Homo sapiens: one gene and its partner. The protein of the gene in region 1 interacts with the protein of each later gene in a pairwise test. Each region holds a gene or a part of one and is shown on either strand. Other genes may lie near its edges.

Region 1 (2,719 bases):
TTCCTATTGGATTGTAATTCTGAAAAGGCATTGTTGTAGGGTTAACCAAAGTAACAAGGTTCAAGCATTCATTACATACATATTTTTAGAACACCTCCTTCATGCCAAGGTCCCTGCCCGTTGCTGAGGACAGAACAGGCAGATGTCATCCCTGCCTGGTCTTGTGGCTTTCTTGTGACCTGCTTTGATAGAGGGTTCACACCAGCCCTGTCTAGGCTTGCTTTCTCCAAGTAGTCATATTTTTCAGATTGAAATAATGCACTTTGCAGTAGACACCTGTCAGGCTTGTGGCTGCCTGGAACCTTTTGAATACTCATCCTAGACCTGGAGATTTTCCCTACAATTCCTGCCTCCCTAAGGCAGAATCCAGAGCTCAGTTTCCCATCCCCTCCTGCAGCTGGGGGACCTAGGGGTTGCCAGTTGGTGCAATCACATAATTCTTTCAGAAAAGAGCGACCCAGGATACAGGTTTCATGAAGAATCTGTTTTCAAGAGGGGATGAGGGTGGAAAATTCTGGTTTTCCAGGGCAGCCTTAATGAAGCTTTTGGCATCCAGGGTCCAGCAGTGTGAGCTGTGGGGGTGTCACTGCAGCTGGCCAACGGAATGACTTGTTTATGACTGTGCAGACTGTAGGCATCTCTGGCTATATCAGACATAGTAAGCTACCTAAGATTCTCAATTACTTATCTTCTAAAACTAGTAAGAGTGAGTTCTGTTCTTTGCAAAGAACTGTGACTAATACATATACTGAACTACTGTTACCTGCCAAAATCCAGGTTGACACATTCCTACCTTACATAAACTTCATAAAAATGATGTAAGGGCCGTGTAGTGGCTCATGCCTGTAATCCCAGCACTGTGGGAGGCTGAGGCGGGAGGATCACGTGAGCTCAAGAGTTCCACACCAGCCTGGACAATATAGTGAGATCCCCGTCTCCAGTATTTAAAAAATCTTTTAAGGTACGAATTATTATACATTTTACAGCTGAAAACACTGAGACTCAAAAAGACACTTAATTCATTCTACAAATATTTATTAAAGCCCAACTGTGTGCCAGCCACCAGGCATAGAATAGGGAACAAAATAGTTTCCCTGCAACTATATAAAAAGAATGGCATATTGTACTTAAATGCCTCCTTGCCAAAATAAGAGGCACAGGACAACAGCTGTCTGGAGATGACCTCAAGCCAGTCAGGCCCCATTTTAAATATAGAAACCCCTAAGAATAGCCGCCAGTGCTCCAGACTCAACAGGTGATTGGCCCAGAGAGGGGAGGTGACCCCAGGCCCCAGGAAAGGGAGCGAGGACAGCGCTGGTTCCCGGCTCCCCGCACCATCATGGCTTTGCCTCTGAGGCCCCTGACCCGGGGCTTGGCCAGCGCTGCCAAAGGAGGCCACGGAGGAGCAGGAGGTGAGTGGGGAACGGGCGGATCCGGGGGCTCCCCTACCCTGCCCACCTGTTCACAGGCCCGCCGCCCCAGGACCGCCGCGCTCACCCCGCTCCGTCCGCAGCTCGTACCTGGCGTCTGCTGACCTTCGTGCTGGCGCTGCCCAGCGTGGCCCTCTGCACCTTCAACTCCTATCTCCACTCGGGCCACCGCCCGCGCCCCGAGTTCCGTCCCTACCAACACCTCCGCATCCGCACCAAGGTACGCGGGACGGGCGCGCGGGCGGCACGGGGGTGCTGCGGGGGCGGGGGGGGGTGCTGCGGGGGCGGGGGGGGGTGCTGCGGGGGGGGGGTCGCGCGGGGCGCGGACTCCGGACTCACGGCGCTCACGCGCGCTCCCTCCCCCGCTCTCTCCACAGCCCTACCCCTGGGGGGACGGCAACCACACTCTGTTCCACAATAGCCACGTGAACCCTCTGCCCACGGGCTACGAACACCCCTGAGGCCCCGGACGCCCCCGGACACAATAAAGGTGTGAAGCTTCGAGTCTGCGGCTCTGTGGGGAGGGCGGGGCCACGGGGAGCGCGCCCAGAGGCGCCCGCTCCGCGCATGCGCCCAGCTTGGTAAGCGCTCCTGCTCCGCGCATGCGCCTAGCGCGGTGGGCGCTCCACGTGCTTTTCCCACGCCGCTGATACGGAGGTGCTCGAGGGAGCCTCCTCCACTCACAGGTAGGCGATCCCAGCTCCCTGTCTCTCACCTGGTAATAATGAGGCCTCCCTCTCACACACACCTATTAATAATTAGGGCTCTAGGCTGTAATGGGCTTCCGCGTACACCGAATCCTCACAGTAACGCTGGGAGCAGGGTATAAATTTAGTTCACCTTCTCCCGAGGAAGACCTGAGATTCTTGGGAATTAAATGACTTGTCCAAGTTCCGGCAGCTCGGCAGAGCCCCCATGGGAGCCCAGGGCTGCAGATCCTGAAGTCCCACTTCTTGCCTGACACCTGAGCTGCTGGTGTCTGTGAATCCCAGCTCTCTGGATTTCAGACGGAGGCTCCACAGTCCTGTGTGTGAGGCCTTGGGACCTAATGCTGGATTTGGAATCTTTTGATAATTCTCTATAATCTTTCTTTCTTTTTTTTTTTTTTTTTTTGAGACGGAGTCTCGCTCTGTCGCCCAGGCCGGACTGCGGACTGCAGTGGTGCAATCTCGGCTCACTGCAAGCTCCGCTTCCCGGGTTCACGCCATTCTCCTGCCTCAGCCTCCTGAGTAGCTGGGACTACAGGCGCCCGCCACCGCGCCCGGCTAATTTTTTGTATTTTTAGTAGA
Region 2 (3,805 bases), on another chromosome or scaffold:
CCAGGGATGTGGAGGCCAGGTGTCCAAAGTGGAACAAGCTCCAAGCTGGTCCTAAAGGAGCCCCAAGAGATTGGCTGGGGTTTCAGCTTATGTCTGGTTTTCCAGAGGGGGCTGTCAGAAGAACTAATGCTCTATGGGAAGGGAGTACAAAAAAAGGGGCAGCAGCCCCGGGCACTGAAGCTCATCTCTGTCTTTCTCTCTTCTTGCTGCCTTGGGCCTGGGTCATTTCAGACAAACCTCAGGTAAGATGGGACTGGGCTTCCCCGCCACTGCGCAGCAGCTCCCGCCCTCCTGGGTGCTGTCCCAGGGGTGAAAGGAAGAGGTGGGGAGGTACAGCTGGGAGTGTGGGGGATGGGGAAGGATGGGGAGGGAACGGGCCCGTGGACAACTTGCATTTGCCCTGACACCCACCCTCCCTGCAGCTCTACACCCTCGCCGTGATCGGCCCAGGACCGCCAGATTGCCAGCCAGCCCAGATCTCTCGCCGTTACTCGGACTTTGAGCGGCTGCACCGAAACCTGCAGCGGCAATTCCGGGGCCCAATGGCTGCCATCTCCTTCCCCCGTAAGCGGCTGCGCCGGAATTTTACTGCAGAGACCATTGCCCGCCGTAGCCGGGCCTTTGAGCAGTTTTTGGGTCACCTGCAGGCAGTGCCTGAGCTGCGCCATGCCCCGGACCTGCAGGACTTCTTCGTGCTGCCGGAGCTGCGGCGGGCACAGAGCCTCACCTGTACTGGCCTCTATCGTGAGGCTCTGGCACTCTGGGCCAATGCCTGGCAGCTGCAAGCCCAGCTGGGCACCCCCTCTGGCCCAGACCGCCCCCTGCTGACCCTGGCTGGGCTGGCCGTGTGCCACCAGGAGCTGGAAGACCCTGGAGAGGCCCGGGCATGCTGTGAGAAGGCCCTGCAGCTGCTTGGGGACAAGAGCCTCCACCCTTTGCTGGCACCCTTTCTGGAGGCCCATGTCCGGCTCTCCTGGCGCCTGGGCCTGGACAAACGTCAATCAGAGGCTCGGCTCCAAGCCCTGCAGGAGGCAGGCCTTACCCCCACACCACCCCCCAGTCTCAAAGAATTGCTCATCAAGGAGGTGCTGGACTAACCCTTGCCTAGATTTAAGGCCACTGTGAGGAGAGGGGTTGCCCCAGAAGGCAGGGGAAGGACCTGATGAGAACAGAATAGCTGGGAGGCTGCAGAGGGTGCTGGGAGCCCCTAGAAGTTCCAAAAGAGAATGTGAAGCAGATCAAGGAAACTTCTGTTGAGCTAGGCTCAGGGTGAGCTTTGGCTGGGGTTGCCCTTGTGTAGTACAGGGAAGTCTGACACAGCCTCTCCAGCCTATAAACAGCCGGGGGGCTGTGGCACAGGTTGGGGCAATGTTCCCTTGTTGGTGGGCCCCCAAGCTGGCAAGGCCTCTTGGCTGAAGGCCAGGGACTCTGCCCCTGGAGTCCTGGAGTTAAGGGATGAAGGCAAGGCTGCAGGTCTGGCCCAGGGGAATTAAAAGCCAGCCACTCCAGTGGTATCAGTCTCTTTATTGGATGTGAGGGCCAAAAGGGACTGTAACTCCTGTCTCAGGAATGGGGATAGATGGGAGGTTCTTGAAGCCCCAGGCGAAGCTGGTACCTCTGGCTACAGCTTGCTCTCTGAGACCTGGGGCTTCACTCGGATCACGCCCTCCTGGGCACAGGTCACAGCTAGGACTCCATCCTGACGCCACAGCCGCCCATGGACCAGCCCCCGAGAGCCACCTGTGGGTGAGGTGAAGGGTGATGATGGCCTGCTTCAGAACAGCCAAATACACTTTTTTTTTTTTTCCTGAAACAGAGTCTCACTAAGTTGCCAGGCTGGTCTCAAGCGCCTGGGTTCAAGGGATCCTCCCGCCTCAGCCTCCTGAGCAGCTGGGATTACAGGCGCACATCACCATGCCCAACCTCCAAGTGGACTTCTTGCAAAGGGTCTGGCCCAGGGCAGGGCTGCCCCACACAAGGGTGCACTGAGTGTCGTGGCTGCTCCAAATGCCCCTTCATGAGCTTATTATGGACCGTCATTGAGGGGTAACTCCTCCCACAGGAACCCCAGTTGACAGTTTAAAAGCACTTTCACACCTCTCCTCGCTTCCTCAAAAAGATCACAGAGGGAGGAGCTCTGAGAACAGTCTCCTTCAACAGCTCGGCCAAGCAGAACTGCTGTACCTCTGACCACTTGTGTTAGGAAAACTATCGGCTCCCTGTATAATAAATCAAGCCAGGTCCTCCAAGTGGTAATTCATGAAAAATATCCCCACTACCACCACCAAGGGGAAGAAAGGACTCAGAAGAGAGGACTTGAGGCCATGAGGTCTGGCCTCTTCCCTCCCCATCTGGAGACTCTTTCTCCCTTGCTGGCTTTGGGCCCAAGTTTGATGTTTATGAGGATGATTGCTGGTTTCCCTTACACATAGCAGAGCTCACTCAGTTCTCACAGTAGCCAAATGAAGCAGTTATGTGTTGTCCAGTTTTCCAGACCAGGACTGAAATCCAGAGAGGGTCAGGAATTTGGCCCCATGATGAAGCCAAATCTGAACCCATGTCCTCACTTCAAGGTTATCAATCTTGGATTGTGATGCTATTGGTACTTGAGAATACCCCTTATCTGAGTATAAAGAATCCTTGAGTTTTGTCCTTGGTTTATCAAGCAAAGCTTTTCTTCATTTGAAATGTACTCCCTTGGAAAGGAGGTCAGGGTTCTGAAGCTAGACATTGATGAACGAGTCTTGTTTCTCTCCCCTGCAAGGAAGGTCCAAGCAGGCCCTTAGGGACCACTGAATGCCCCGATCCCAATCAGGTTAATCAGAATCACTTAGAGAACTTAAAAATACAGTTTCCTGGACCTTATCCAAGACCTACTGAGTGAGAATCTTGAGGGTGGAATCAGAATCTATTTTGAAAAGGCATCCCCAAATGGCAGTCTGATGGACTGCGGGTTTGGATACCACTGCTGTAATGTAACCCTCTTTGTTTAGATGAGGAAACTGAGGTTCAGATGGAAGATATGATTTGCCTATTGTAATACAAAGAATCTGAACTGGTTTTGGGACTAGAACTGGGTCCCTGGGAGAAGGTGAATCACATTTCCAGCACATTCTAGAAATTTAGAGCAGAGCAGGTGTCCCGGCCTCACCCTCTCATTTTGAAGATGAAGATGCCAAAGCCTGGGAGGGAAGGAAAGGAAGTGACCTGTGCAGCGCCACACAGGAAGTCGGGAAATCAGCATCACCCAAGAAAGCAGGCTCCTGCCACTCAAGGTCAGTGCCCTTGTCCCACACGGCCCCACACTCACCGGCCCAGGGGCTCTCGCATTCATAGAGCATCCAGTGGTCAGCTCGGAAGGGGGCGTGGAACCACATGGAATGGTCCAGTGAGACCATGAAGTGCACCTTGTGCTGCCACTGGTGAGGCAGCAGTGCAGTGCCCAAGAAGGCATAGTCGGAGATATAGGCGGCCACGCAGCAGTGCATCTTCATGTCGCCCTCGCCTGCAACAGGTCCCCATCAGCCCTGGGCTCCTGGGCTTTCCAGCTCAGGACCTGCACGGAGGTAGGGGGAAAAGGGACTCCCGTGCATGGGTGTGCAGACTGGTTGCTGCACAAGAGCGCTTGGCCTACAGTGTGTGTGTGTGATAGGGGAGAAGTGAGATGGCGACTTGGGGAGGGCAGGGGTGAGCAGGGACTGAAATTCAGTCTTCACCACCCAAGTCTCCCACTCTAGGCCCCAAAAGGGGTGTCTTCTTCCAATTTGCACAAAGATACTTTATAGTTAGCAGCAAAGCTGGACAA

What was found.
Region 2: the proteins of COX6A2 (region 1) and SNX21 interact in a two-hybrid assay, tested with the Homo sapiens proteins (one large-scale study listed by BioGRID and IntAct).

What each region holds. Positions count from the first base shown.
Region 1 is NC_000016.10:31,426,946-31,429,664, reverse strand, and holds COX6A2 (cytochrome c oxidase subunit 6A2, mitochondrial precursor), read left to right. Parts: upstream 1-1,304; 5' UTR 1,305-1,339; coding exon 1,340-1,412; intron 1,413-1,513; coding exon 1,514-1,650; intron 1,651-1,807; coding exon 1,808-1,891; 3' UTR 1,892-1,934; downstream 1,935-2,719. UniProt on the Homo sapiens protein: Component of the cytochrome c oxidase, the last enzyme in the mitochondrial electron transport chain which drives oxidative phosphorylation.
Region 2 is NC_000020.11:45,840,217-45,844,021, forward strand, and holds the end of SNX21 (sorting nexin-21), read left to right. Parts: exon of another isoform or gene 1-89; coding exon of another isoform or gene 90-242; intron 243-422; coding exon 423-1,097; 3' UTR 1,098-1,621; coding exon of another isoform or gene 1,622-1,740; 3' UTR 1,741-1,816; coding exon of another isoform or gene 1,817-1,827; 3' UTR 1,828-3,060; downstream 3,061-3,805. Other genes in the region: ACOT8 (acyl-coenzyme A thioesterase 8), read right to left, coding at 1,622-1,740, 3,311-3,505. UniProt on the Homo sapiens protein: Binds to membranes enriched in phosphatidylinositol 3-phosphate (PtdIns(P3)) and phosphatidylinositol 4,5-bisphosphate. May be involved in several stages of intracellular trafficking.